4 linked regions of the Homo sapiens genome follow. The protein of the gene in region 1 purifies or fractionates together with the protein of each later gene. This does not show direct contact. Each region holds a gene or a part of one and is shown on either strand. Other genes may lie near its edges. The genes, in order: ZNF74, TCEAL5, JAG2 and PTPRK.

Region 1 (4,780 bases):
GAAGCATAGCATCTCACCCAGGACTTAGAGCCTGATACAACAGCCATGTACAGCCCCTGGGTCCCACCGCAAGTTGCCAGGGCCCTGTGGTGTCTATTCAGACCTGCTTTCCCAATCTAGAAGGTGGTGTGGGAATGCATGCCAATTCCCAGCCCCCCTCCCTGCCCCTGGTCCCCGAATTCAGTCATGGTCAGTGTCTACAGCACAACCTTCTGGCATGGGAGAAGGTCACCTGAGGTTAACCCTTTACTTGTAGGGTCCTTAATCAATCTCTGGCTCCTTTGGAACCATGGACACAGAATCAGTCCTGGGTGAGAACCTATATGTCATTTCAGGAATCGGTGAGTTTCAAGGATGTGGCTGTGGACTTCACCCAGGAGGAGTGGGGTCAACTAGACTCCCCTCAGAGGGCCTTGTACCGGGATGTGATGTTGGAGAACTACCAGAACCTTCTTGCCCTAGGTAAAATCCCCCCAGCCCCAGGCTGGGCGTCGGCTGTCAGCCTTCTTCTACATGGTAGATATTAAGGAGAATCCCTTCAGTGCCGGCCCTGGTGCCAGATATATCATGGGGTGGGAAGCAAGGCCTGTGCCTTGGGGCACTCATGGCCAGGGGCCTCGGCCACGCCAGAAGTCCCCAAGGGACAGCGTGGGAGCTGGTAGCATCCTTGCTTGGTGTTTCCCCTGGTCCTGGGATAGGGGCAGGGAGAGAAGAGAAGAAGGTGGGACCCTGGAGCCCAGCTGGCTCTGGAACAGTCCTCAAGCAATGAAGTAAGGACGTCAGCACACGTGGGGTCTTCAGAGTATACACTGGGATTTGGGTTCCAGTCTGAGACCCTCACTGCTTTTGGCCCAGAGGACCTCCTGTTCCCAGAGAGGGTGTCCACTTCACAGGCATTGTCCTTGTTAGGGGGCGGCCTGTAAGGTCGACTGGGCCTGGAGAGCTGCAGCATGCCCAGCCCACTTTCTCTCCACGAGCAGGACCTCCACTGCACAAGCCAGATGTGATCTCTCATCTGGAACGAGGCGAGGAGCCATGGAGCATGCAGAGGGAAGTCCCCAGAGGGCCCTGTCCAGGTGAGCAGAGGCACAGGTGGAAGGGTGCCAGCCCCAGCACCCCTGGTGGCACCTCCTCCTATGGCCCCTATTTTCCTCCCTCAGTTTGCCCCGGCTCCATCTCCCCTTTTCAGGTCCCCCGCCAGACCCTCCTGCCTGCCTCCCTTCAGCACGTACTGAGCACTGCCTGTGTGCTGAGACCTGTTCTGGGATACAACAGGGAACAAACCTGGCCACTGGGACCAAATGGTCACCTGCTGATGGGGATGGGGAGGCAGGAATAGAAATATTGAGCCATTGGTGTTGGCTGGGCAGCCGGGGGTGTGGGATTGGGGGCAGGGGGCCACCAGGGAAGGGGCAGCTGGCGTTGGTCAGTGTCAGGGTCAGCATGAGCATCAGCATCAGGGCCAGCGTCAGCGTCAGGGTCAGAGCCAGCATCAGTGTCAGGGCCAGCGTGAGCATCAGCATCAGGGCCAGTGTGAGCATCAGTGTCAGGGCCATCATCAGCGTCAGGGTCAGAGTCAGCATCAGCATTAGGGTCAGCATCAGCGTCAGGGTCAGGGTCAACGTCAGCGAGGGCTTCCAGGCTGTGGCCAAGATGGCAGCCCTCCGTAAGGGAAAGGGGACTGGGGTGGGTGTTGAGCAGAAGGTAGTCTGCTTTTCTTCTCCAACATTCTTTTTGTAGACTTCTCTTCTGAGTTGGTTGATAAATAAGTGGTAAATTCGGCTTAATTTATTGGACAGTGACTGCTGAGCATGTTAGGTGTCTAGAAAGCTCGAGAAACACCTTTCTGTGGGAAAGGCAGCCGATAAGCTGTGGAGCACAGAACACGGGGGTCGGGGAAGGCAGCCCCTCCTCCATCCCCCTCCACTGCCACATACCACCCAGCCCCAACCTGCAACAGTGGCTGCAGCCCCAGCTTTCTGGTCTTTATTTCTCACCCCAGCCTCTGATGCTTGCTTTGTCCTCTTTAACAAGATTACAGGTTTCAAAAAATTCATATTTTTGTTTGATTCATATATGAATATACTGAAAATGAGGCTGAAAGGTTACTGAAATCCTGCATAATCTTTCCACCCAGAGATGACGGTTCTCTAATAACTGACCATGTCACTGATTCCTCTGGGCCCTTCCTCTGTGTGCGGATAGACTTCTAAAGCTACATGTGGCCAGGCGTGATGGCTCACACCTGTAATCCCAACACTTTGGGAGGCCGAGGCAGGCAGATCACCTGAGGTCAGGAGTTCGAGACCAGCCTGACCAACATAGAGAAACCCTGTCTCTACTAAAATTACAAAATTAGCTGGGCATGGTGGTGCATGCCTGTAATCCCAGCTACTTGGGAGGCTGAGGCAGGAGAATCGCTTGAACCCAGGAGGCAGAGGTTGCGGTGAGCTGAGATCGTGCCATTGCACTCCAGTCTGGGTAACAAGAGTGAAATTCCATCTCAAAAAAAAAAAAAAAAAAAAATTAGCTGGGCGTGGTGGTGAGCACCTGTAATCCCAGCTACTCTGGAGGCTTAGGCAGGAGAATTGCTTGAACCCGGGAGGCAGAGGTTGCAGTGAGCCATGATCGCACCATTGCACTCCAGCCTGTGTGACAGAGCTAAACTCCATCTCAAACAAATAAATAAATAAAGCCTTATGCACCCTCGGAAGCACAGCACTCACGCCGGAGTCTGGCTACCACACTGGCCATGGCATAGTGAGCGTCCTCACGTGATGTTTACTGATTGCACAGTATCCCTTAGATGAATGTGCCCTGCTGTGTTGTTGGCCCTATTGCTGCCAAAACAACTTTTTTCTGGCCTGGGCCTCTTCTCTCTGCTCTGTGCAACTTCCCTAGACTCTTACCTCTCACTTGGTGTGGATGTGGTCTACACTATAGCAACACCAGCTGAGCTGCAGCCCTGTGTCACTGACCATCTCGTGGGCCTCTGCTTGCATGTCTAAAACCAGACTTGGAACTGGCCCTTCCTCCTCCTTTATAAAAGCTTCCACCATCCACCCAGGCTTGGGTGTTTGCTGAGGTCTCATCCTCTCCCCCATTTCCTCTCTTGCCACCTTCAGTCAACAGCTAGGGCCATCAGTTTTAGCACCTAAATGGCTCTTAGATCTGCTGCTTCCTGTTCATTTTCACAGCCTTGGTTCCAGTCTGAAGTTGCCATTTTTCACCTGAATTATTCAGATGGCCTCCCTAACTGGCCTCCCTAACTGCTGGCTCCAACCACCTTACACACCACCAAAGCCACCTTCAAGACAAACCATTATGCCAGGCACAGGGACTCACACATCTAATCCCAGCACTTTGGGAGGCCAAGGCAGGAGGACCACTTGAGCCCAGGAGTTGGAGGCTGCAGCGAGCTGTGATTGCACCCCTGCACTGCAGCCTGGACAACAGAGCGAGACTGTGTCCCCGCCCTCTGCTTCCCCCGCCCCCCGTCAAGACACCATATGATCACATCACCCTCTGTGCAAAAGGCCTTTCTTCCCCGGCTGCCCTCTGAGTCAGGCATCTGGTCACCTCGAACCCATCCACCTTGCCAGGGTCACCTCTCAGCCTTCCTGCCTCTGCGTGTCTTGTCTTCATCTTACTGTCTCACCTCTGAGCTTCTGCACATGCTGTTCACTCTCCACCTGGCTACCTGCCATGTGTGCCATGGCCAGTTCCACTTGCCCTGCTCTTCTGCATGTGTTGGGGCCACAGGCAGCACCACCATGCAGCTCTGCCCGCTGCACTAGACTGCTCCCTTTTAAGCCTGGGGAGGACAGAATTAGAAATAAAATCTCCTGCCAGCTCAGAAAACCTTGCTATAGAGATAGAAAAGAAAGAAAGCCTTCTTATTGAATAAGTGTTTAACCAGATGTGGTGTACAGGAGAGAAAGAAACCTCCCCCTTTGACAGAGGAGACACATCCAACCCAGCACACAGGGCAACTGTCTTCACCTAAAGGAAGAGTACAGCTTTTTGGGTTTTGTTTGTTTGTTTGTTTTTTGAGACAGGGTATCCCTCTATTGCCCAGGCTGGGGTGCGGTTGCATGATCATAGCTCGAAGCCTCAACCTCCCTAGGCTCAGGTGATCCTCCCACCTCAGCCTCCTGAGTAGCTGGGACTATAGACAGGTACCATCATTCCTGGCTAATTTTGTATTTTTTGTAGAGGGGTCTCACTGTGTTACCCAGGCTGGTCTTGATCTGGGCTCAAGTGATCCGCCACCTTGACCTCCCAAAGTGCTGGGATTACAGGTATGAGCCACCGCGCCCAGCCTCTTGTAGCTTTTTGACAAGCAGGAAGTTACATCTTGGACTCGACTCTTGGACTAGGCTCATTTTGCTTCTGAAAAGGTTTGCATGCGTCTCGAGACAGAGAAAGCATTTGCAATTCCCAGTGTTCTAAAGGGAAGCGCTGGGGTGTGGGGAGCCCTTTTTTCCTTTTGGCACCACAGACAATTTTTAATTCATTTGTTAGTCCTAGCTACTCGGGAGGCTGAGGCCGGAGAATGGCGTGAACCTGGGAGGCGGAGCTTGCAGTGAGCCGAGATCGCGCCACTGCACTCCGGCCTGGGCGACAGAGCGAGACTCGGTCTCAAAACAAACAAACAAACAAAAAACATGTATTTGTCCTGTGTATTGCGAGCACCTGCCATGGTATTGATACAGAGCAGTCGGTCAGCCGACGTGTCCGTGAATGAGTGTAATCCTCATCAACAGCTCCCAAGCTTGCC
Region 2 (5,223 bases), on another chromosome or scaffold:
TTTTTCATGATGTCAACTTGCTTATATAAAATAAAAACATACATCCACACAAAAACTTATACGTGATTGTATATGGCAGCATTATTTATAACAGCTAAAAGATGAAAATGCCTAAATATTCATCAACATATGATGGATAAACAGAATGGGGTGTGCAAATAGAACAAAACACTATTCAGGCTCCTAGGGTACAGATCTTCTTCTCACAAGAGTGTGCATACTCCACTACTTCCTAAACATATGCAATTTTACATGCCCTTTCAGGTGGCCCACAGACTTCATCAATTGGGAATACTTGGTCTAGGTCAATATGGACAGCATGGCAGAACTCCTTAGACACTGGCCTAAATTTGCTGAGACAGTCATAGGTTAGTATGGACTGGCAGGCAGCAATCCTGCAGCAAGGTTAGGCTCCCTCTGGGTTCCCTGAAGATACAGAGTTTGGGGGTGAGAGGCCCGCCAGACTGCACTTTTTAGGCTAGGCGGGAGGTAACAGACAGGGTCTAGGGAGGCTTCCACTCAGGCACTGTGAATAAGGGCAGAGAGCAGGCAGGTTGCAGGGGACTCTACCCCAGCAATCACTTCAGGCCTCATGAACACCCTCAGCTGCAAGGGTCTAGAAGAGATCTGTTCTAGTTTTCTAGAGGCATGAACAATGCTCCACTCTGTGCTGGGGCTGGGTTATCCCTGTGGGAATTAGGGGGAGGGAGGAGGGAAGGAGCCAAAGGCATTTACTCATATCACCACCTTGGTCACCTGTCCAGTTATATTCTTGGACAGATGACTCTTGAGCAACAGAGTCATGTGCCTGGGGATGAGAAATGCAGGGGATGAGAAATTCTAGAATATGAGGGGGTGGAGAAGAACACCTTCCCCTGATCTTGGCAGGGCAGGGAGGATAGGACCATTTCTGCATCCTTCACATCTCCTGCAGCCTTGGTCTCACAGCTCTTCCCTTCCCCTAGAGCTAAACATTTGAATGAAAATAGCCATGAGCCAAATTTTTTAAAGAGACATTTTTGAATTTTCTTTCAACCATCAGATTCCAGCAAGTCTATTTAGCACTCAGTAATCGTTTGGGAACATTAAATGTGTGTGTGTGTGTGTGTGTGTGTGTGTGTGTGTGTGTGTGTGTGTGTTAAATAGAACGTGAGAGAACCAGCTATTTATGAAAAATTTCTAATGTATATTTTGCTTGTTGCCAATTGAATTCCTTGTGTATATGGCAAAAGTTAATATTATGAACCTAATTTGGTCTCTCTTCTGAGTAGAAAATTTTGAAATCTTTTAAGTTTTTCTCTCTCTTAAACACTTTCTCATAAATGAAATAGCTTTATTTAATTTTGTGCTTATAAGAATAACCCATGCTGAGGAGAGTGAATTAAATAAGATCAAAAAAATTTAAAAAAATAAAACCCCTATTTTAACTACTTGTGTCCCTACTTGACAATCCACCTTGTACCCATTATGAGAAGGTCTGGTTCACAGGCAGAATGAACATCAGTGGCTGCGTGTAGAATTAGATCGAGTAGGTGCCTTCGGATAAAAGGAGAGAAAGAAAAAAAATTCCTCTGAGATGTACCAATGGCCAATAGCTCTAGAAGAAGGTGCGGTCCCTCCCTGATAACCACGGAAGAATAAATACATACTACACAGAGAAAGGGCCACATTTGACCTGTGGGATTAGCAAAGACCAAAATGAGTGACAGGGCCCCGTGCTGTGGGGCGAGAGAGAGAGCTAAGCCGGGGTTGGGGGTGCTGAGGGCGCTCAGACGGACAGACTAGTGAAGGGAAGAAGTGGGCTGGCTCCTGACGCACTTTCTGCGGGTGGGAGGGGAACTAGGGACCCGAGCCCACTGGTGACGTTTTTCTCACGTGATCTGAAGCCGACGTGTGCAGAAGTCCCTCTCCTCCAGGTACCAGATCCCTGTTTCCGTGGAGGAAGGCAGACTTCAGACTGAAGGACAGAGAAGGCAACTGCCCTACAGCCCTGCAGGTCGGTACAAGCCGGGGACCCCTGAGGTAGGGATGGTAATGCACATAGGCTACAGAGGATCGGATCTGCTTTCTAGATACCGCCCTGTTCCACCCCCATTCATTTTGGCGCAGAAATTTTTTTGTGTTGGGCAAGAGGTATGGGTACCAGCTTTTATTTCCCTGGAGAAGTGCAGGCTTCTGGCAGAAGGAAATGTGAGAAAGAGTCATTTCCCCGAGATGGCTACGAACCCATCCACAGCCTGTGGATCCCTGTGGTTGGGATGGCAGAGGGCAAAGACCAGAGCGGGTCCAGGACTGGATTCTCTCCACTCCTTTCCCGATGCTCACTCATTTGGTGCAAGAAATGGAGGGCTTGGTGCGGGGCGGGGAGGGGGGAGGGGGGCGGAACTCGAGAGAGGTCAAGGGTTGAGAATTGGGTACCAGTTGGGAACTCCTAGGAAGCCGGCGACCGGGTGATGTCTGATGGAGGAGGAGGAGGACCAGGGAAGAGAACAGCGACGAAACGGCGAGAAAACGGCCTGATCCCTGCAAGGCAGCGGGAGGCGGGCACAGTCAGTGACCCCAGGCTGCTGAGGGCGGACCCTGCAACGGGTCCAGGCCTGAGTTCCCTGTGTCTTTTCTCCAACCTCCCTCCATTTTGGAGCCGGAAACGGTGGGCTAAGGGGGTCAGGGGAAGGAGGTGCTGTAGAAAAAGGGAGACAGAGGTTTGATCTGGGGATCAGCTCCCTATCCAGGAGGAGTGGCTTCTGAAGTAGGAGGATTGAGATGAGGTAGCAGCAAGACCAAAAATGTTACCGGGTTTGGAAATAATTTGTCTCTTGCATTGCAGAAAAATGTGGGCTTTCTGTGTATGTGGGGAGGGAGGAGGTGGCAGGAGTGTTTTGGACATTTCTGCCCTGCCCCCTATCTCTGTCATCACCATTTTCAGAGAAGTGGTGGGCTCTGCTATTTGGCTACCCTAGGGTGAGGGATTTGGAATGTAGAGATCTGAGTGCATCAGAACACTCTGTCTTCAGAACATCCTTGTCTCTAACCCTACTCATTTTCGTGCCAGAAAAGTGAGATAAAAATTTGGGAGGAAGATTCAGAAACATAGAAACGCTTTGGAAATAATCTTTCTCGCCTATTTCCCACAAGTAGAACAATGGAGGCTCTTAAGAAAGAGCTGCGCGCGGAGGGGGAATCAGAGAATGCAAGGGAAAAGGCGAGGAGGTGATAGGAGCTCGGAAAGTTTTGACAAATACGGTCCCAAAGAACCAGTGTCCAAGTTACCAGTCATTCACTTTCTCAATTTCTCATTCACCCACCTGTTTCTTGTCTTTCTGCAGGTCTTCAAGTCTGTGGTTGTGGGCACTAACCCAGACAAGAAAAGGAAAGACCTGCAGTATCGGTGCAGGTCAGTGGGAGAGGGCTACTGCACCAGGACCCTTGGGAGTAGGAGTAACTTAAGCCAGAGCAGAAGTTGGGGAGGCCACTGCCTGCCACCCCTCCTCCAATCCTCCCTCTTGCAGTTTCGGGATACATGACTGCTGTCAAGACCCTAAGGGGATATGGTGATCTATGGCTGGTGAGGATAGAGGGGAGAATAAGAAAGTAAGAGAATGGAGGTGTAGCATCTGTGATGCCCCCTGAGGACATAAGGGTAGCCCTGAAATCTGAGAACTGGCTATGGTTCTGTTCTGTCTGCAGTTTTATAAGTCTTACAACTGCATGCAAGGGGAAAAAGAAGAAAACTGCCCAGGATTTCTGCAGGTCCGTGTAAATTGGAACTACCCAGTTAAAATTGGTATGGGTAGGCATAGCCAAGGCCAGAGCAAAGTTTAAGGGCCAATATGCTCCTACGCATTTCTCAGCACATCCTCCTTAAATGTAGGGAGAAGCACCTGTGGAAGTTTCTGTAAGGTTGGCTTGTGTGAACATGTGTAAAGTGAAAAGGAAAGGAAGGAATGTAAGGGTGGGAGTGCACCTGGAAGATGGGATAGGGCCAGGAAAACCCTAAGTTAAGAAAGACAAGTACTATAAGGACCTGTGTTCAACCCCCAAAGCCCTCAGTGTCCTGTGTCTTCTTTTTGTCTCCTAGGAAAGGCAAAGAAGGGAACATCTCAACATGGAAAAGCTCTACAAAGAAAATGAAGGAAAGCCAGAGAATGAAAGAAACCTAGAAAGTGAGGGAAAGCCAGAGGATGAGGGAAGTACAGAAGATGAAGGAAAGTCAGACGAGGAAGAAAAGCCGGACATGGAGGGGAAGACAGAATGCGAGGGAAAGCGAGAGGATGAGGGAGAGCCAGGTGATGAGGGACAACTGGAAGATGAGGGAAACCAGGAAAAGCAGGGCAAGTCTGAAGGTGAGGACAAGCCACAAAGTGAGGGCAAGCCAGCCTCCCAGGCCAAGCCAGAGAGCCAGCCGCGGGCCGCCGAAAAGCGCCCGGCTGAAGATTATGTGCCCCGGAAAGCAAAAAGAAAAACCGACAGGGGGACGGACGATTCCCCCAAGGACTCTCAGGAGGACTTACAAGAAAGGCATCTGAGCAGTGAGGAGATGATGAGAGAATGTGGAGATGTGTCAAGGGCTCAGGAGGAGCTAAGGAAAAAACAGAAAATGGGTGGTTTTCATTGGATGCAAAGAGATGTACAGGATCCATTCGCCCCAAGGGGCCAACGGGGTGTGAGGGGAGTGAGGGGCGGAGGTAGGGGCCAGAAAGACTTAGAAGATGTCCCATATGTTTAATGTCTTTGGCCTTTAATTCTGATTTCTCTGATGGGAATATTGCCAGTCCTGCTTTTCCTGGCAGGCATTTGCCGGCCTATGTGCTTTAACCTTAAGCTGATACTTTCCTTTAGGTGTCACTCTTGTTACCAGCAGACTTTTGACCCAACTACAGTGCTCTGTCTTTTAGTAGAGGATTTTCACCCATGTGCATGGAATAAATGTTCATGGTACATTGTAAAATAACAATAAAAAAGAGTTTTCAGAACCATGTATACAGTATCAGCCCATTTCTGAAAAAAAATGTTTACATAATATATCCATACATGGGGGACACTATGCAATTGAGTAGATCAAAGAGAAATCATGAATTTCTTTGTGTGGTGGGACTGAAAATTATTCTTTTTCTCATCTGTACTTCTTTTAAATCTAAAAAGCACAGGCTATTTTTGTTTTAAAGGAAGTAATAAAAGGTAAACAAAATAGGAAAATAGTAAATACTAGGCAATCAAAAGAAC
Region 3 (4,780 bases), on another chromosome or scaffold:
GAGGGGTGGGGGGAAGTGGAGGGGTGGAGGGTGTCCCCGTCCGGGCACACAGGAGAGCCCGGGGTCCTGCGGTGGGGACCTCGCCACCAGGCAGTGAGTTGGGGAGGTGTGTGGCCCCATTCGCTGACACCTGCTCCGTGATGGCCATCCCTTCTTGTCAGTTCCCAGCCCCCACCCCCACCTATGGGCCACACCCCAGGGGCACCACAAACCTAGTGCCTTCACGAGGCCACAGCAACCCGGGGCTGTGCCCCTGCCTCCACCACATCCCTGATGGCGCCCTGACCTGTGCTGGCACACTTCTTACATCTTCCCCTGCCCCTACTGCCCTTCCATCACCCAGCAGCACCCATCCATGTCCCCCACCCCCTCTGCGGCCTCAGGGCACCAAAACACTGCACGTCCTTCCTGTGCCTGGCCATGGCCTCCACCAGCCACACTGTGCCATGGCCACACCCACTGCTCTGCACACCCACCCACCATGTTCCAGAACATTCCCTCCCCTCTCCGGGCATGTCTCCACCCCAGTCTCACCCGACCCCCTTGGTATCCATTCACATCTGACACCCCCCAGGTCCAGGGCAGGTGCCAGTCCCAAAGCAGGCCTCCCAGGGCAGACTAAGCCCACGGACTCTCCTGCTGCCTGTGACGTAGGGACACAGAGACAAAAACAGAGCAGGGGACCGGGCGAGGATGCAGCTGCAGGGGAAGCGGGCTCCACACCACAGCCCTGCATCTCCCTCATGCTGGCCAGGCCCAGGGAGCAGTTCCACGGGTCTGCGGCATGGACAGCGAGGGGCCGCAGGGAGACAGGCCTGCCCGCAGTCCTTCCGCACCAGGACTAGCCTCGCCAGAGCCTCTGTCCAGCATAGCCAGGACCTGCATAGTACGGGACCCAGGGCCCACCCAGGTGCTGCTCCCCACTGGGCACTCACCACGGCCACCTCCACAGCACTGGCCCCCGAGGACGCCCGGTCGCAAAGCAACACCAGCAGGCGGTCCCGTGCCACAGCCCTTGTGGCTGGCAGGGAGCGGATCCCGGAGCAAATGGCGCCCACCGTGGTGCCCTGGGCAGAGACAGGCAGTGCGTGGGCAGGGCAGGGCCGTGAACCTGACACCTACATCCCTGGACTGGCGCTGTGGGTACACGTGGGACACACCCTACAGCCCGCCCAGGAGAGCACAGCAAGGATGCCAAGGGCCTGGGGGGGCAGCTTCCCACCCGGCTGTGCCCTATACCAGGAGGCAGGAGTGACGGTGCCCACCCGCCCATCCTCAGGGCGGACCCAGCTCCACCTGCAGGCCAGTGGGGGAAGGAGAGGCAGGGCGGGGTACAGTGGGTCTCCTCCAGTTCTGAGCCCCTCCTGGGAGACAGGGGCCCAGCTCCAAGCACACAGCAGGCAAAGGTGGCTCCTAGGCCAGGGCAAAACTGCCCACGGAGCTACAGCCCAAGAGCTGGGGCCAGGCAGCCATGGCGCCGTCAGTCCAGGCCCTCAGGGCAGCTGGACAAACAGGCACCCCCAGCTGGCTGCTCTCCCAGCCTCCTCTGCCACCTCCACCCAGCACCAGGCCCAATGCCCCTCTCATCTGACCCCACAGGGCCACTCTCTGTGACCAAGAGTGACTCTGCTCAGCCAACCAGGGCCTCCCTGCCCTGCGGGGCTAGGCTTTCGCCATGCCACGAGCAGATGCCGGCGTGTGGCCTCTGCAAGCTCAGATGCCACCAGGCCCCTCACCTGGGGCACGTGGTCACGGTTGAAATGCAAGGTGAGGCGGGCACAGTTATTGTCCAGGTGGCCGGAGCGTGGCAGGCAGGGGGTGCTCGGTGGCTCTTCTGCGCCGCACTCCCCCCAGGCCTCACAGGGTGGTCGCAGACACTGGCCTGGGGCCTTCTCCAGGCACCTTTGCCCCAGTGGGCACTGGGCGCTCAGGGCCTCGGGCTGGCCGGCCAGCAGACAAGGCTTCCATCCGCACCACACCTGGGCAGGCACGCACAGGAGGGTCAGGCGCAGGCGCACAGGAGGGTCAGATGCAGGCACACAGATGAGAACCCACAGGCAGGCACGGGCCCCATGCCAAGGAGGGACACCGCCCAAGTCTGTGAGCCCCAGGGCCCAGCCCACCCCCTACCCAGGGCTCCCAGGGAGGCAGGCCAAGCTCGACATCAGAAAGGGCAGGCGGAGCAAGGCAGGACCCAGACCAGGCCTGTTTTCCCAACTGCACATCGAAGCATGGGGCCTGGCTGAGCTCTCGCCTCCCTGGGTGTCCCTGAGGGCAGACGGCTCTCAGTCCATCCGGACCCCAGCACCCGCCTCCTGATCTCACAGAGTGGCCAGGGTCAGCGTGCACCAGCCTCGGGTAGGGCAGGGCGGCTCACGGGCTGCCCTCACCTTGCTGCAGTCACGGCGGCCATCCAGGCAGCGGCAGCTGTTGCAGTCTTCCACCCAGGAGCTTCCGTGTGGGAACGGAGTGCCCCGGGACCAGCAGGATCTCCCGAACCCGATCACTGTGGGGAGAAGGGGCTCGAGGGTCAGCAGTGGGCATCTGGCCCTCGGGGCTGGGTGTCACCCATGCCCCCCAACCCGCCCCAACCCAGGGCAATCACACGGGGCCTACCTTCCTGGCACCGGGGGCCGGCTCGGCCGGGTGGGCAGCTACAGCGATACCCGTTGATCTCATCCACACACGTGGCCCCGTAGGCACAGGGCGAGGACTGGCACTCGTCGATGTCTGCAGGGAGAGCCACCGCTGCTCAGTGCAGTGAGGCCAACGCCCACCGCAGGACCGGCATGGCCTAGGGCAGCGGGGAGCCAGTGGCACACAGGCGCAAGCCCCAGGACAATGAGGAGCAGCCCCTGCCCCCGAGCCCAAGCTGCTGCCTGCCTGAGGCCTTCCTGAGCCCAGCCTGACCCTGGCCCAACAGCACCCTCCTCCGTCTGCTTCTGCAGTGGGCCTGTCCCATCCTGGATTAGCCCCAGCTGCTGCGTCGGACCAGCCAAGGGGTGCTGGACAGACAGCTGGGCCAACACCCAGGGACAACAGCCCTGCGGCCACAGAGGAGCCCACGTCAGGCTGCACGCTCCAACCCCCACAGCTCCCTGGGCCCCGGACTGGTCCCCCAGGCTGGGGCTCCCCACTTAATCACTTGGCAGGGTATACAGCAGGAACCCCACAGGGCACAGACATGTGGGGAAACTGAGGCTCAGAAGAGAGGCAGGAAGTAGTTGTGGCCACACTGCCCTTCAAGGGACGTGGACGTTGATGTCCCCAGACTCCTGACACCGCGGCTGGGCTGAGGGGCTCCCAGGGCTGGGGCTGTCTGGCCACTCACTGATGCGGCAGTCAGGCCCCGCGAAGCCAGGTGCACACTCGCAGCGGAACCAGTTGACGCCGTCAACACAGATGCCACCATTGTAGCTGCAGAGCAGAGGGTGGGCATCAGGTGGCCCCCCGTGGTATGCCAAGTCCCACCCACCCCTGCTGTGGCCCCCAGGGTGCCACTCACCAAGGCAGAGGGTTGCAGTCGTTGGTATCTGGTTTGGGAGAAGAGAACGCAGGGGATCAGTACCCACCCCCCAAGCGTGCCAGGCACTGTCCAGGCTGGCTTGGCGTGATCAGGCTGTGGGGCTGGGGAGGGTCATCAAGGAGGGTGCCTTTTGCTGGGGGCAGGGGCAGCAGGGGGAGGGGCTGGCAGAAGGGACTGGGGGGCGAGTCGGGGGCAGGGATGTCATCTGGGTGGAGGAAAGCGGCCCCCGCCCACACCCCTCCCACACTCACTGTGAGTGCAAGTACGACCCTCCCAGCCGTCCCGGCAGATGCAGGAGAAGGAGGCCCCGCTGCCCACGCAGGTGCCACCATTCACACAGGGGTTGGGCAGGCAGCTGCTGTTCTTGGCTGTAAGGAGAGGAGGAGGAGGGAGCGTCTCACCTGGCCCTGGGCTGGCCCTGGGTCTCCATACCGCGCCCCCAACCCAGACAGGGCAGACAGACCCGGGGGCAGGGGGCAGGGGGCAGGTGGCAGGTGTGGCCCTCAAAAAAGACCCCTCGGCCCATCGCGCCCGAGGGAGCGGTGCCTGGGAGGGCATATGCCCGGCGGTCGCAGAGGCAGCGGGGGCTCCTCACCGACGGCGCAGGTGCTGCCCTTCCAGCCGGGGGGGCAGGCGCAGCGGAAGGTGTCGCCGCTGTCGTAGCAGGTGCCACCGTTGCTGCAGGTGTAGGCATCGCACTGGAACTCGCCTGTTGGCACATGGGCCGCTCAGCAGGCAGGCCCCAGACCGCCAGGGCCAGGGTCCTGGGGGCAGCCCCAGGCGGCCAGGGCCTGCGGACACTCACGTGAGTGGCAGGTCTTGCCCTTCCAGCCGTCGTCGCACGCACAGTAGAAGTCATTGACCAGGTCGTAGCAGCGGCCGCGGCTGTGGCAGGGATCGGGAAGGCAGTCGTTGGGATCTGGGGGCGAGGACGCCGGTCAGCGGGCGGGGGGTCACCGGCGCTCAGGGAGGGCTTCCCGGGGGAGGAAGCACTGGAGCTGGGCCAGGTGAGGACAGAGAGGGGCGGGGGAGGAGCGTCGGGCCGGGGGAGCTGGCCTCGGGCATGGGGGCAGCCTGGGACTCCACCCCATGGTGGCAGCACCCCCTGGCCAGGCCTTTCTGGGTACGGGGCCTGCCGCACCCAGACAGCGGTCCATCTCAGGGTGATAAGGGGCCCACAGGGGTGGAGGCACAGGCCGTGTGGGCGGGTGCTGGAACACTCACTGGTGTCGCAGAGCTCGCCCTCCCAGCCGC
Region 4 (4,780 bases), on another chromosome or scaffold:
AACAGCGATGGATATATTTTCAGCAGTTAGAAAACTTTTTCTCTTTTTAAATGTTATTTACCCTTTAATTAACAAATAAATACTACTTTTCCTCCAGCTGAATGTGAAAATGAGCTTTTCTGATACCTGGAGTTTAGATACGTACAATAAACAATTGTGTTCTTAGATATCTAGTTCTAAGTACTTTAACTAAATATGCCTGGCTTTTCTTTAGTGACAAAGCATAACATTTGACATGATGTTGTATATTTAATTAATATAATGTGCATTCCTAAAAAGTACAGTAATCACAGGATTGCATCTCAAGATTTTGCCCTTTAGGAATGTATGCCCAGAAATGAATGTCTTTTATTCCCAGAGTTTAAAGTCAGATTGTGGATTTGCCTTTCTCCACAAATTATAAGTTTGTTTTGTAAATACTTCCTTTTTTTTCTGGCTACCATAAATCATTTGATATTTTATTGTCATAAAATTCTATGGCAGTCAGATTTGTTGCAGACATAGATTAGAGATGTATTGAAGATTGGAGGTGTATTCCATATTGCTGGTTTTTCTTATATTTTACTTTAACTAGTGAACTTTTATTCCTTTTGAGAAATTTAAATAAACCCACTTTAAAAGTCCAAGACAAATTCATGTTGAGAATTTAAAAATATCTGAAGTATGTCTTTCAAATCATACTCATTAAGATCAGTTTACTTTCCGATATCATGTGGTTCCTAATGTAGTAAGCTTCAAAAGCAAATTTTGAAAGGCTGAGCATTGTTGGGACTTTGATGTGTCATATACTTATTCAGTTTTCTTTGTTTAAACCAAAAATGTAAGAGTGTTTTCATTATTGTGACTTTTTTCTTAGCTTTTGCAGTTAAAGTGTAAAACTGCTGCACTGTGAGCCTCTTTAAAACCAGAACGTTCTGTAAATCCCAACTCATACATTCTTTCAGTTTCACCTCTCACTTAAAATGACACCCATGTCATATCTGAGGAAACCGAGGCATAGAAGAATAAAGAAGTATTAAAGTTTATTCACTGGGTTGTATAGCTGTGATCTCTTGATATAATGTAAGAAAGTTTTCTGTAGAAGGACTTAGATGACTGACGAAACCAGATGCAGGTAAGGTGACTTGGAAACTCAGCTTTCTCCTCTGTAAAATGGGGATAATAATACCCAACTTGACCTTTCCACATGTTTTTTATGATTAAATGAAGTAATTTATGGGAACTAGCACTGTAAATTGTAAAGCACTGTGCAGCTATCTGGGGTGTAATCATCATTAAGTGCCTTAGTCTCAGCTTTTTACTCCTTCCAAATTCTCTCTCCAGTAAGTGCAGGCTGTTCAGGATTTGTGTGTGAGTGTGTGTGTGCGCACGTGTGTGTGTGCATGTGTGTGTGTGTTTTCACTCAGCCAGTCATTCATTTAATTATTGTTTAACATAGTTATTGTTAAACATAAACATACTAGATTGGCCAGACCATAATTTTGTCAGCACAATGATCGATTATCCTTAATTTTTTTAACTTACCTCGTATAAATCCTTACTTGAGTTAGACCCATGGAAGAGTCACTATTAACATTCCTGGCATTTCTAACTACAGAAAAAAATATTTTTAGTCAGTTTCTTTAGCTGTTTGTTTAACTGTTGGTTCAGGTTTTCAACTCTGTGTTGAGAATAATATGTAGCTTTCTAGATGCAGTCTTATCAATGACCTAGAGAGGGACTATTGTCTCTCTTGTATGATAGGAGCCTGGAAATACAGCTCGAGATCCTGCTTTGTCTATAGTTCCTGACATGTCACCCTGTTGATGTGCACTTAGAATGCTGTAACTCATCTAAGCAGCACCTGAGCAGTATCTGACTCCTTGTTGTCTCTTTAGGTGAGATTAATTTCTCTTATACTTATTACCTGCTAGGAAGATACTTTGGAGCCAGCTTGCTTTAAGGTTTGCCTGTTAGTTTTTTTTGGTTTTGATTGGCTAAATATCCCTCGATCCCTCAATTCATTAAAACTCCACGTTCTAATCACTAGCAATCATATGTAGCTGGACATTTCCAGGACTGTTTTTTTTTCTCTCTCTAGTTCTCTTGCATCTGACTCTTGATTTTCCTAGGTCGTGAGATGTAGTTTTGTGTCTGGCCTACCCAGACGGAAAGAGGAGAGTCTGGCTGCTGTTTGGACATTGGCATGTGTGCTGCTGACAGCTCTTCTCTTTGTGCTCATAAAAGTGAATTTCAAAAATAAATCAACCCCTCTGCCACTCTGCCCCCTCCCACACTCCCTCCTACTCTTTTCTAGCAAAAACAGAGCCCCACATATATATACACAAGATCACAGCCCTTTTGTTTTTGCCAAATATATTTTAGTGCTGTACATGTCCTTAAGAACTGGAAATATGACTCATCCACTAACCAAAGCTAATGCCAACATTCCCACCAAATCTCATATTTCTAGCAATGATGGTTTGTTACAGGTTTTTCTGGCCTTTAAGGTAATATTTAATTCATGTGATAAGATTCCATATAGAAAAAGTGTGTTGGCTACTAATATTTTTAAAGTGCAGTATACCAGGTCTACTCAAACTGGTATTAAAGACAGTGAACATCATGCTAAATAGGGATCTGTGCTGCTCCCATTTCCCCTACTTGCTTTTCATGGAGTGCAGGAAGAGAGATGCTGGAAGATTGAGAGCAGGAAGCATCAAGAAAGTTTACAGATTGTTCTTAAAGACAAAACAAAGAACACAGGGATTCTGTGTGTGTGCACGTGTATGTGTGTGTGTGAGTGTGTGTATGTGTTTTTGATCTTTTACTTAATTTTTAGAAGAGGAAAAAAGTCCTATGGTATTTTTGACTTGTTTATTGAAATCAGCCTTTGCCTTTGCGCAAACACATTTTCTAGTTCTGTCAATGTAAAAATTTCCCTCTGTGTATTCTTCTCAGTCTTTACACTTTGATCATATGTATCTGGTCTGTGTTCCTTCTTCAAATGGTGTTTCTTTTTGCCTAAAAAGGTTGTAATTGCTTTTGAACATGACTTGTTTTTTTAATCAAAACTCATGCTGTTTGTCATAGTACTGAAAAAAAAAAGTACAAGACATCAATTCATGATAGGTCTTAAAACAGTATTTGATAACAAAGTAAGTGAATAATACATTAATCAGGCTATTTTTTATTTCAATTGAAGCAAAAAGCAAACTTGCATATCCATGAACTAATCTTTTAATGTCACAGAACATTTATTTGTTGCTGTTTCTGAAGTCTTTAAGTTCCCTTTTATAAATGGGGATAGACAATTTCAGAACCACATTGCTTGATATTTTGAGATAAGTGAGATAAGTTACATACAACTATGCCTTGGAAAACTGAAAAAATGTTATGATGTTTGATATCAGTGTGAACTCTGAATAGTTTGTAAACTTCACACTCCACATTAGTGCAAATGTGTTTTGTGAAAATACTCCTAAAGAAACGTAGTTTCACATAAAAGGTTTTTAAAGTTTCATGAAGATTCTGTTGTGGGAAGTATGTTTATTTTCCTTTTGTATTCTTGTGGGAATTCTTTTGATCTGTATTTAATATTTTAATAATGAAAACTAAGTGTATGTAATTTTAAAACTTAGTTTCGTGAGGTTTTTTTTAGATTGTTGAGGTTCTGGGAAAACACTGGGCCTGGGATCTAAGGATCACATTGATCCTCTCGTGGAACATTGCCATTTCCCCACTTAACTCTGGTTGAAATTTTTGGCATTCTCCTTCGTGTGTTGATAATCCATAAAAATTACAAGTGGCTTATTTTGTCACTTACAGTTGTTTTAGGATCAAATTAAGTTGTCCTAAATGGAATAATCCGTGTTTCCACTTGATATGATTATTGAGCTCTGATAATGAAAATGATGAACAGGGCAGTGCTGGCTGAATCCTCCAACAGGTGTCATTCTAGGAATTGTTTTAATAAGGGGAATTCAGAAACAAGGCAAAATAAAATAGTGCGTAGTGGAGTTATTGTTTGTATTTATTTTGTTGGGAAATGTGAAAGATGTAAGTATGTAGTCCTCTGTGTGAATACACACACACACACACACACACACACACACATCTTAACAATGCTAGGACTTAGTTGTAGAAACATTTAGGTTAGAAAGAAGGTAAGGGCATCTAGAGATGGTATCAAAACTCCATACTTAACATTTTTGGAAAGAGTAGTGAAAATAGATCACTACTTTATTTCATAGATGTAGAAACAAGTGGAAAATAAGCTGTATATAATCTATACTGTATACTATACTATACTGTTATACTTTTAAGGATAAAATAATAAATCTTTCTCCAGATTGGTATCTATTAATATAAACCCTTCCCAGTGCAGCCTGTTCCTTAACCAGCTGCTCATAGGCCGATTCTCCAAGCGCTGTTCAAGGCAGCAGCTGACCAGCCACAGAAATTCCCTTAATCCGTGTTGGATAGTGGAGGTGACCTAGCAGCTGCTTAAGTGACAGACTGGCAACAGTTCCTTGATGTGATTTTTCTTAGGTCATTCAGTAAATTCAAGAGTAGAGAGGAAGGCTTTCTAGGGTCCTCACTACCCACCCAGGGATTGATGACTGATTGCTTCATGGTCATTGGATTCCTCACTGCAAGGTGTCCTGGGATTTTGTGGTTCATGGACCAATATAATTAGCATCATCTGGAAATTTGTGATGATCTGTGATCATCAGAGTCACCCCAGATCTACTGAATCAGAATCTGCATTTTGATGAAATCCCCAGGTGATTTGATGGAA

What was found.
Region 2: the proteins of ZNF74 (region 1) and TCEAL5 purify together in Homo sapiens (affinity purification with mass spectrometry; one large-scale study listed by BioGRID and IntAct). This does not show direct contact.
Region 3: the proteins of ZNF74 (region 1) and JAG2 purify together in Homo sapiens (affinity purification with mass spectrometry; one large-scale study listed by BioGRID and IntAct). This does not show direct contact.
Region 4: the proteins of ZNF74 (region 1) and PTPRK purify together in Homo sapiens (affinity purification with mass spectrometry; one large-scale study listed by BioGRID and IntAct). This does not show direct contact.

What each region holds. Positions count from the first base shown.
Region 1 is NC_000022.11:20,400,297-20,405,076, forward strand, and holds part of ZNF74 (zinc finger protein 74), read left to right. Parts: intron 1-335; coding exon 336-462; intron 463-980; coding exon 981-1,076; intron 1,077-4,780. UniProt on the Homo sapiens protein: May play a role in RNA metabolism.
Region 2 is NC_000023.11:103,273,446-103,278,668, reverse strand, and holds TCEAL5 (transcription elongation factor A protein-like 5), read left to right. Parts: upstream 1-1,918; 5' UTR 1,919-1,996; intron 1,997-3,326; 5' UTR 3,327-3,394; intron 3,395-4,078; 5' UTR 4,079-4,105; coding exon 4,106-4,726; 3' UTR 4,727-4,978; downstream 4,979-5,223. UniProt on the Homo sapiens protein: May be involved in transcriptional regulation.
Region 3 is NC_000014.9:105,143,995-105,148,774, forward strand, and holds part of JAG2 (protein jagged-2 isoform a precursor), read right to left. Parts: coding exon 4,751-4,780; intron 4,446-4,750; coding exon 4,332-4,445; intron 4,236-4,331; coding exon 4,122-4,235; intron 3,895-4,121; coding exon 3,778-3,894; intron 3,534-3,777; coding exon 3,506-3,533; intron 3,418-3,505; coding exon 3,332-3,417; intron 2,731-3,331; coding exon 2,617-2,730; intron 2,507-2,616; coding exon 2,391-2,506; intron 1,980-2,390; coding exon 1,737-1,979; intron 1,068-1,736; coding exon 936-1,067; intron 1-935. UniProt on the Homo sapiens protein: Putative Notch ligand involved in the mediation of Notch signaling. Involved in limb development.
Region 4 is NC_000006.12:128,513,686-128,518,465, reverse strand, and holds part of PTPRK (receptor-type tyrosine-protein phosphatase kappa isoform b precursor), read left to right. Parts: intron 1-4,780. UniProt on the Homo sapiens protein: Regulation of processes involving cell contact and adhesion such as growth control, tumor invasion, and metastasis. Negative regulator of EGFR signaling pathway. Forms complexes with beta-catenin and gamma-catenin/plakoglobin.